2 separate regions of the Homo sapiens genome follow, and region 2 is linked to region 1. Evidence: fine-mapped expression QTL. A gene starts in region 1. The other region holds a variant in brackets. All regions are shown on one strand. Distances are between the middles of the regions. Region 1 holds the start of MSRB2 (methionine sulfoxide reductase B2). Region 2 overlaps PIP4K2A (phosphatidylinositol-5-phosphate 4-kinase type 2 alpha).

The links. PIP is the estimated chance that this variant, and not a neighbour inherited with it, causes the effect. A credible set is the group of variants that fine-mapping cannot tell apart.
Region 2: its variant is the best candidate, but not a certain one, in a credible set for the expression of MSRB2 in whole blood (TOPMed, PIP 0.65).

The regions. Positions count from the first base shown.
Region 1 is chr10:23,093,150-23,098,527 of GRCh38, reverse strand. It overlaps MSRB2 (methionine sulfoxide reductase B2), which reads right to left and starts at 2,949. Exons shown (of 5, transcript NM_012228.4): 1 at 2,802-2,949. The coding sequence starts at 2,919. It overlaps LOC107984215 (a long non-coding RNA gene), which reads left to right and starts at 3,249. Exons shown (of 3, transcript XR_001747394.2): 1 at 3,249-3,708. RefSeq lists a silencer at 2,672-3,141.
Region 2 is chr10:22,561,762-22,567,139 of GRCh38, reverse strand. The region is part of intron 6 of PIP4K2A (phosphatidylinositol-5-phosphate 4-kinase type 2 alpha); the gene reads left to right. It also overlaps the pseudogene TRP-GGG1-1. Among named protein-coding and RNA genes, the nearest start is that of LINC03027, 130 kb to the right of the region's middle. The variant A/G (reference allele first, on the strand shown) is at 2,967.

The sequences.
Region 1 (5,378 bases):
TATGAAAACATTTATCGGTTGCTGCTATTGCATGAGATAACTACACAGCTTTACTTTGAATTATGCCTTAATAAACTCAAATTCCTTGGAGTTCCCTTCTCTCTGTGTGCTGTGATTTGCACAGGCCATATATTTTGTTGGTCAGAAGTTCTACGGGGTGGGCCTCGATTTTTTCATCCCTAAGGAAATCCACTCTTGGTCCTATGGTCACCTACTGGGTGCCTCCTTCGGGTTTTGCTAACCTTCCTGGCCACAGTTGCTATACTGCCAATTGTCACACATAAGCCCACTCCATTTTGATAAATAATGTGTTGAATCTAATGGAACTCTTTAGAAACTGGTATTAAAAGAATCCCCAGCCCATTCTGATCTGCAGAACTAGTCTCTCCCACCAGTGCCTGGACTATTTTAACCCTATGCCCAGGACAGTTTCCTAGCATAGTCATCTCTAGAAAGAATATTTTCCTGAAGCAACAGATTTTTTGCTCCAGAATATTTCTTACTTTCCTTTTTCAGTTTGCTCTTTGTCAATCTGGATTAAAAAAAATCACTCTAAGCATATGAGAAATTGCAGCACTGGAAAAAAATACTGTCATTTCAATATCTTCTCATTTCCCCCCTCCCAATGTCTCCCTCTCTCTCAACACTCCCGAAGCCCATGATGTAAGTTAAATGTAGCTACATTTTTGTCCTTTCCACTTATTTATGTAATCATAACTAACATTTATTGTGTGCCTAAGTGTCAAGCATTGTAACAAAATATTTAATTAAAAAGTTATTCTTTACAACAACCCTACCATTATCATTATCCTTATTTGACAGAAGGAAAAAAAATCTGAAGTTTAAACTTTCCAAATTCAAGAAACATGTCCAAAGACATTGTTACAAACTGAATATTATATGTTCTCCCTGCTCCTCTCCCCACTCCCATATGCTAAAGCCCTAACTCCCAATGAGATGGAATGTGGAGGTGGGGCTTGGGAGGTTATTAGTTTTAGATTAGATCATAAAGGTGAGGCTCTCTTGAGGGATTAGTGGTCCTTCCTGAGACAGTCACCTGAAGGCAGAGTGAGAAGGCAGTCAACTGCAAGCCAGGAAGCAGGTCTGCATCAGGAACCAAATCTGTTCCCACCTTGATCTTGGACTTCCCAGCCTCCAGAACTGTGAGAAAATGTTGTTGAAGCCACCCAGTCCACGGTGTTTTGCAATAGCAGCCTGAGCTCAGACACAGAGCCAGGAAGTAACCGAGAGCCAAGACTCAAAATCTGCATCTATTCATACCCAAGCCCTTCACCACAGAAATACTCCGTTTATCATTTTTAATGGCTGCCTAACAGTTTGTTGGATTGAATTTTCATGATTTACGTAAGTATTTCTTAACTGATTTGGGTTACAGCCAGTTTCCATTTTGTAAGAGACTAGTGCTTAAAGCATCTTTGCATATATCTCTTTGTTCTTCTTTTGAACTATTTCCTTCGAATAGATTCCCAGGAGGGGTGTCTGATAAGGTACACAGCTCCTGTTACCTACTGGTGGCTGGCCAAATTTTATTGTTGCTGGAGAACTTCAGATCCCAGGGCAATTCATTAGGCTGCTTCTGACAGCAGCAATTACAGCCATGAAGTAGTTACCGCTAAAACCACCATCCTTTTTCAAGGGGTTATAGAGAGCTCGTCGGTAACTGTGACCTGTTTCTATCACCTGTGGTTCTCAGCAATACAATGCTTGGCACACAGTAGGCTCACAGCAAATGTCATCAGACTGACTAGAGACACCAGTGATTAGAAAGGCCATAGCTGGAAGTCAAGTTGGATGAGCTAACATTCCACAACGCCAACGCTTTTATTTAGTTACGTATTCTTTCAATATTGCATTTCGAAAACTTCAGGGGCTAAAAAGAGCTCAGAATGAGTTGGTACATTTTCATCAGTTGGGTATCTCTGAATGTCTTCAATGAACACATATAAAATTGGATTCAGAGTGGGTCAGTCTGGCAACCGCCCAGGAAGCCAATCCCCTGGGGCACTAAGTTACCCTGAAATAGAACTGAAATACAGGGGTAGCTGGCACAGGTCTCCCGAGGTGACTCCTTCCTGCTTGGTGAAATGTGCAGGTACCCAGATCCAAGAGAGGATCCAAAAGTATTTAGCAGAAACACACACACACACACACACAGAGAGAGAGAGAGACACACACACACAGGCTCGCCCTGGTCTCTGTCTCAGTCATTAACAATGGCTGTCACCTTAAAGAAGGAACAAATGATCAACCCAGTCTCCCTGGCTCTTAGACACATTTATGGGAAGTCAGCAGGGCAGGAAACACTCACAGGAACCCCAAGTCTGAACTGCCTGCTTCTCAGATGCTGGAAGGAAGCCCGCGGAACTACGAAGAGGGCTGCAATGCAAAATACTAGGGGCCTTCGCAGGGGCGCGCGGGCCGGGCTGCTACAGCCCAGGCCCCGGGCCTTCGCCTGGAGTCCCCGATAGGGGTCAGAGGCCCCCGAGCCCCACTTATGCCCCCACTCCCCGAGCCAAGAAAAAAAAAATTATGCGCACATTTAGGGGGATCATTTGTTCATTTCCTCGGATTCTCACAGGGGTCAGTCCCCACCCTGCCGCCACCAAGTTTACAATCCACTGTCCCAGATCCTCGGGCTGGGGGGGGGGAGGGGCGCGCCGAGGAGGGCTTAGTAGGAGGGCAGCGCCCGGCCTGGACCGGCCCTAGGCTCCCGGGTGCAGCCGGTGAAATGAAGCCGAAAGCCGTAGGCGGCGGCGGGGCCTGCGGGACCCGCGTCCTACCTGCCTCCCCCAGTCCCGGCCCGGTGCCGGGCCCGCCGCCGCCCGCTTGGCCCCGCACCGCCCGCCGAGGCGCAGTTCCGAGGGTCAGGCCCCGGAGCAACCAGAGGAGCCGCGCCATGACGCCCGCTCCGGCGCCGCTCCGCCCTCTGCCCTCTGCCCGTCTCTGCCCCTGCTCCCATCCCACCCCTCCCCCATTCTCTCCCGTCCGCCTGCGCTAGTCGGCCTCCCTCCCCACGCTCCGCCCACACCGCCAGTCCCCTCGTCTCCCTCCCCCTCTTCTCCCTCCCCTGCCCCTCCCTCCTTCCCTCCTTCCCACCTGCTCCTCCCACTATGTGCCCTGGGCCCTCCCAGGTCCCCGCCCCTCTTTCCTCCCACTCTGCCTCTCTCTCCCCCTCCCTCTTCCTCTCCTTTTCCCCTTGCCTTTCCTCCCCCTTCCTCTCCCCCTTCCTCTCTCCCTTCCCTTCCATGAGACCCTCCCCAACCCATCTCTGCATCTCCCAGCTCCTCCCACTCCTGCTCCTCCCTCGCCCTGCCCCCCTCCACCTATCCCAACTCCACTCATCCGCAGCCCAAACACTGATCTGTTTTAGTTTGCATTTTCTAGAGTCGTCCATAAATGGAATCATCCCATATGTACTTGATTTTGTCTGGCTTCTTTCACTCAACATAGTTACTTTGACATGCCTGCGTGTTTTTGCATGGAACAATCATTCATTGCTTCCTGAGCAGTATTCCATTTATGGATATACCACCGTGTGTTTAGTCAGCACTTGATTTAGCCTGCTTTCAATTTTTCCTGATTAGAACTACAGCTGCTAGGAACATCCCTGTGCAAATCTTTGTACAGACATATACGGTTTTTCCTCTCTGGGGTAAATACCTGGAAGTGGAATGCCCAGGTCGTAAGGTAGGTGTAACCATTTAAGAAACTACTATACTGTTTTCCCAAGTGGTTTTTTTCTTTACCTTCCCACTAGCAGTCTATGCGAGTTCCAGTTGTTCTTCATCCTTGCCAACACTTGAAAGTCCAGAGATTTTAACTGTAGATGTTCCGGTTCTGTGTAGTGGTAGCTCATTGTGGCTTTATTATGCATTCTCTAATCGTTAATGATGTTAAGCATCTTTTCATGTGCGTATTTGCAGCGAGTGTATTTTCCTTGGTGAAGTGTCCGTTCAGATCTTTTGCCCATTTAATGTTGAGTTGTTTCATTATTGAGCTTAGAACACTTTATATATTTTGGATGCAAATCTTTTATCAAACATATGCTTTACAAAGATTTTTTTTCCCAGTCTCTTGTTTGTCTTTTCTGTCTCCTAATATTGTCTTGGGAAGAGCAGTTTTTAATTTTGATGAAGCCCAATTTATCAATTTGTTAATGGATTGTTCTTTTTTTGGTATCATATTTAAGAAATCTTTGCCTAATCCAAGATCACAAAGATTCTCTCCTATGTTTTGTTCTAAAATTTTTATAGTTCTAGGTTTTACATTTAGGTCTCTGACCGATTTAGAATTTTTATATATGGCCAAAATTTTTGTTTTGTTTTGTTTATCTGTTTTGTTTTTTGCATATCTATATCCAGTTGTTCCAGCACCATTTTTATTGATTGATTGATTGATTGATTGAGACAGAGTCTCTGTCGGCCAGGCTGGAGTGCAGTGGCACGATCTTGGCTCACTGCAACTTCCATCTTCCAGGCTCAAGCAATTCTTCTGCCTCAGCCTCCTGAGTAGCTGGGATTACAGGCGTGTGCCACCACGTCTGGCTAATTTTTGTATTTTTAGTAGAGACGGGGTTTCACCATGTTGGCCAGTCTGGTCTTGAACTCCTGATCTCAGGTAATCTGCCTGCCTCGGCCTCCCAAAGTGCTGGGATTACAGGCGTGAGCCACCAGGCCTGGCTCCTAGCACCAATTTTTAAAAGACTACTCTTTCTCCACTGAACTGTTTTTGAATCTGTCAAAAATCAGTTTCCTATCAATGTGTTGTGTCTATTTCTGGACTTCCTATTTTGTCCCATTAATTAATTTGTCTATTTTTACATCAATATTACAATATCCTGATGACTGGACTTGCAACCAGCTAGCATTGGTACTGTACCTCTGTTCTTTTTTAAGGTTGTTTGGGCTATTTTAGGTCTTTTGTATTTCAACATAAATTTTAGATTCAGTCTGTCAATTTCTACACATGATCTTACTTAAGTTTTGATTGGGATTGCATTGATTCTATCCATAAGTTTGGGGGAAATTAATATCATAACAATATTGAATCTTTTGACCCATGAATAAAGATATGCCTATCTATTTATTTAGGTCTTCCTTAACACCTACTAGTAGTGTTTTGTAGTTTTCACTGTATAGGTTTTGCACATCTTTTGATAGATTCATCCTAAAGCATTTCATATTTTTGATGCTGTGGTATTGTTTTATCAATTTCAATTTCTGATTGCTAGTATGTAGATTTTGTATATTGATCTTGTATTCTGTAATCTTTCTAAACTCATTTCTTAGTTCTAGTAACATTTTATGGATTTTATCAGATTTTCTACATAGAAAAATCATGTCATCTGTGTAGAAAGA
Region 2 (5,378 bases), 530 kb after region 1:
TACTCTTAGTTATGCCTTCTTGTCACCTTGGGAAGTGCCTTTTTCTTAACTATTCCATTTGAAAACAGAGCTCAAAATTGTTGTTTGAAAGTTGTTCTTTTAGACTGATAGCAGTTTTGAGTTGAATTTTATAGATTTGCAAATCTACTTTTGTTTGTTCATTCAGAGGTGTTTGTGAATATTTTTGTGGCTACTATCCTAGCTTCAGGGGCTAAAATAACAAGACACACAGAAAGATCTAGCAGGGGATGCAGACCTCAAATAGAAAATTATGTTATCATGGGGTGAACACTTGGACAGGACACTCAGGGAGCTCTAGAGCACATAGCAAGGGCGCCTGGCTCAGGCTGGGCAGGGTCAAGGAAGGGCTTCCTGGAGGAGGTGATGTCCAGAAACCTGAAGGATCAATAGGAGTTAGTCAGAGGAAGAGCGGCAGGTGCAAGGGCATGAGAGTCAGAGTGGGGAGTATTTGGTGCATTTGCTGCAGGGAGAGAGGAAGCCACAGAGGGAAGGAAGCCAGTCCTGTCAGAGAGGCTGATGAAGTAGCCCGGAGAAGATGCTGGCCGGAGCTGGGATGTGGTAGAAGTGGATGAATTACAGAGAGATTTGGGAAGACAAATCTACAGAACTGAGGGATTGAGTGCCAGAGGTGCCAGGGAGTGTGCGTAGAGGGAAGGGGGTTAAGGATGACCCCCAAGTTTCTGGTTTAGGCAGTTGGGTAGGTAGGTGTTCATTCCACTCCCTGAAATAGCAAACAAGAGCAGGAGGAGGAGTTTGAAATGTCAGTTATCGGGGAACCTGCCCCGATATTCACATAGGTTCTTTTCTGTTTTTCCTAAGCATCAGCCGGCTTGAGAAATAAAGGGACAGAGTACAAAAGAGAGAAATTTTAAAGCTGGGCGTCCAGGGGAGACATCACACGTTGGTAGGATCTGTGATGGCCCCACAAGCCACAAAAAACAGCAAGTTTTTATTAGGGATTTTCAAAAGGGGAGGGAGTGTGTGAATAGGTGTGAGTAACAGACATCAAGTACTTAACTGGTTAATAGAATATCACAAGGCAAGTGGAGGCAGGTCGAGACCACAGGACTGAGGCGAAATTAAAATTGCTAATGAAGTTTCGGGCACCACTGTCATTGATAACATCTTATCAGGAGACAGGGTTTTGAGATCAACCGGTCTGACCAAAATTTATTAGGTGGGAATTTCCTCTTCCTAATAAGCCTGGGAGCGCTATGGGAGACTGAAGTCTATTTCATCTCCGCAGTTTCGACCATAAGAGACAGGCACACCTGGGGGGGCTGTTTATAAGCCTGTATCTCCAGGCGCGTATTCTCTTTCTCAGGGATGTTCCATGCTGAGAAAAAGAATTCAGCGATATTTCTCCCATTTGCTTTTGAAAGAAGAGAAATATGGCTCTGTTCCGCCCGGCTCACTGGTGGTCAGAGTTTAAGGTTATCTCTCTTATTCCCTGAACAATTGCTGTTATCCTGTTCTTTTTTCAGGGTGCCCAGATTTCGTATTTGTTCAAACACACATGCTGTACAATTTGTGCAGTTAACGCAATTATCCCATGGTCCTGAGGCAACATACATCTTCCTCAGCTGACAGGATTAAGAGATTAAAGTAAAGACAGGCATAGGAAAGCACAAGGGTATTGATTGGGGAAGTGATAAGTGTCCATGAAATCTTTACAATTTATGTTGAGAGATTGCAGTAAAGACAGGCATAAGAAATTACAAAAGTATTAATTTAGGGAACTAATAAATGTCCATAAAATCTTCACAATCCACGTTCTTCTGTCATGGCTTTAGCCGGTCCCTCCGTTTGGGGTCCCTGACTTCCCCCAACAGTCAGTGCGGCGTCAGAACAGAGATATCCAGTAGGCATGAGAGGCTGCACAGTGGCTCTCAGCTGAAAAAAGAGTGTGGGAATCCTCCCTGAAAGGATGGTTGGCAGAGACAGGAAAGTGGGTGAGGTCCCCCAGGAGGAGTGTGTGGAGAAGAGAAGCATGTCTAGAACAAGCCCAGCAGAACATCACCTTTTACAGGAGCCAGGAGACACTGGGTCACTCACTCAGATATTGATTGTCTGTGATGAGTACACACTCTGCCAAGCATTGTAAGAACTGCTTCGTGGAACTAGGCTGATACAGTCCCCATCCTCATGAAACTTTCACTCTAGTAATTTTCCATGAACCAGAGGAAATGAACTTCCCAGCGTCAGATGCTTTCGTGAGGCCAGGTAGGGTAAGAATGGAGAGTTGTCCAGGGACATATCCACAGGGAAATCGCTGGGGACCTGGTCGGTGAGGGCGAGTGGGGACCAAAGCCAGATTGCAGCAGGTAAGGAGGAGAGAAGAAAATGGTGGAGGCTTCTTTGGCCATTTGCCCTTTTACTGTACATCAGTGAATGTACATTTTGAGAATTCAACCTTCGCCTAAACCCCCTCTAAGGCACTGGCTTTGGCCAGAAGAGGCAGAAACAGTGACTGTCGACTTCCATGCTGCCATGAGTGAATGTTTCTTCCAGGTACTGAAGACTCAGCAGGTATTTCAGTTTTAGCCCATGAGAAGCTCAGAGGCTAAATTTTGTTGAGATTTTCTCCTCAGAGGAAATGCCAGGGTGTGTACAGAGTCACACATGCTCTTCAGCATCGTACGACAGGCCAGCCCCTGAGTCACATGATGCCCCATGTTGGTGGGTCTGTTTTTACTTTCTTCCAAAGTTCCTTGGGACTACCACTAGCAGGATTTTTTTCCTTCATTCATTTTGATTTCTTCAGGTTCAGTCAACAAGTGCTTGGTCCTGCTCTGACAGTAAACACTGCCAACAAGGACAGTTACAGCTAATGGCGTGGTTGCTGCTGAGGCCTAAATCATAAAACAAGGGCACACAGAGAGGAAAGCCACACGTATTTGACTTCCTGTATCTGTAACGGTTCCTGCAAAGCAGGACATTCACTT[A/G]CCTATCTTCCGTTCCGCTGTTGCACCTATAGGACTTAACACACTTTCCAGAAACCCAGGGCATGAACCACAGTTCACTGCCCTCCTCACCAAAAAGTGTTTAGTCCCTTTATTGGTATAGCTTCCTATGAAAAGAGAATAATAGAATTTGTTTGACCGAGAACTCATCTTTCTAGGACTCTGCTAGGATGCTTTTATCCTGTATCTAATATGAACACGTAGCCATCATTCCTTCAAACATCTCCCTAGGGGGTAGGCTTAGAGGAAGTCACAACTGGCACTGGTTGAGTACAAACTATATGCCAGACCGTTTTAAATTGTACATGAATTATGTCATGTAATCCTTAACAGTCACCAGATGAGATTGGTGCTGTCGTTACTTACTTTGAGTGGATGAAGTTGCTTAACTGACAGGTTTAGTAACTTCATCCAGGGTCCTACAGTTAGGAAGTGACAGCGCCAGGGTTTGAGCCTGGGATCAGCAGCCCCAGAGCGCACATTTCTAACCACTATGCCACACTGCCTTGTAAATGTTTGTGAGTTCATGTCTCTCCTTTCCTTTAAGGGCATATTATCAAAAAGTCATGTTAATCCCATTGTGAAAATGAGGAAAAAGTTAACTACATTGACAAAAACATTGTTTCAGAGTTAAATATGGTGCTGAAACAGTTGATTCTAAAACTTGATTTTTTTTCTAAAGTAGTGAAATAAATTATTTGTTTCCATACTATGTTAGCAAAACAATTTGTATTTCCTCTATTTGAAGAGCTTGAGCATTTTCGCTCATACTTTCAGATGTACATATTTGTAAAACTTTTACGTTTAATGCAGTCTTTATCACGTGTCTTACACTGTGCAAACATTAGAATTGTCTGCACAGTTGCCCTGAGGAAGAATTCAGTGCCCTAGCCTTCTTTTTGTGGTTGAGGTTTCTAATAACTCTTATTCCAGAAGACAGAGGCTGCATAAAGCTACCCCACCCACCCTTCTATATTAAAAATGCTCACTTGGGAAGGGGAAAAGGAAATAGCTTGAAGATGTGGAATGTCAAAGTCATAGAAATTGGTAAATGATGGAGAGTGTGCCTGCCTTGACAGTAGGGTAGAGATCAAAATGTACCTTCATTCATGCACAGTAAAAGGGCAAATGGCCAAAGAAACATCCACCATTTCCTTTTCTCCTCCTCACTTCATCACCTGCTGCAATCTGGCTCCCACCCACCGTCACCGACCACGTCCCCAGCGATTTCCCTGGGGATACATCACCCAGACTAGAGAGAGAGGAGGCATTTGAAATGTCAGGGTGGCGTCAGAACAGAGATATCCAATAGGCATGAGAGGGTGCACAGGGTGTCTTAGCTGAAAACAAAGGGCTTGGGAATCCTCCCTGGAAGGACGGTCAGCAGAGACAGGGAAGTGGGTGAGGTCACCCAGGAGGAGCGTGTCGAGAAGAGAAGCACGTCTAGAACGAACCCAGGGGAAAGTCGTCATTCACGGCTCGGTAGAGATCATGCCATGCCTTCTCTCTCTGATACAGCAGTGTTTTGTAGACTCTAGAAACGTTTGTTAAACTGTAATAGATGAAATGAAATGTATTAATAGAGCCAAACTGTTTTGTTTTTTTTCGAGACGGAGTCTCGCTCTGTCACCCAGGCTGGAGTGCAGTGGTGCAATCTCAGCTCACTGCAAGCTCCGCCTCCTGGGTTCATGCCATTCTCCTGCCTCAGCCTCCCTAGTAGCTGGGACTACAAGCGCCTGTCACTACGCTTGGCTAATTTTTTTGTATTTTTAGTAGAGACGGAGTTTCACCGTGTTAGCCAGGATGGTCTCGATCCCCTGACCTCGTGATCCACCCGCCTCGGCCTCCCAAAGTGCTGGGATTACAGGCATTAGCCACCGCGCCCGGCCAAGCCGAACTCTTAAAAACATTGTTTGTTTGTTTTTTTAACTTTTAAAAAAAGTCTTTGCTTTCCCTTTTCTGCCATCCTTTGGGTTTTCTTTCCATGATCAGTTAGGATTTTTGACTCTTCCAAAAAGCCTACCATTCATTGTGTTCACAAATCATAAATACTCCTTTTTATGATCAGACATCGGGGGGGAAAATGCTATCAAAACAGTCTACTAAATGCTATCAAAACAATCTACTGGTACCTCTGGTTTGAAATATTTGGGGAAGGCTAAAAACACTTACTACATTTTAGCCTTTTATAAATGAAATGATTTGCAAGAATATTATATTCATTGCTATTATATATAACTATATTCCTTTCCAAATGATCGTTATGGTACAAAGAACAATCTTTCTAGAGGGCTGGGCATGGTGGCTCACGCCTGTAATCCCAGCACTTTAGGGAGGCTGAGGCTACAGGATAGCCTGAGCTCGGGAGTTCAAGACCACCCTGGGAAACATAGC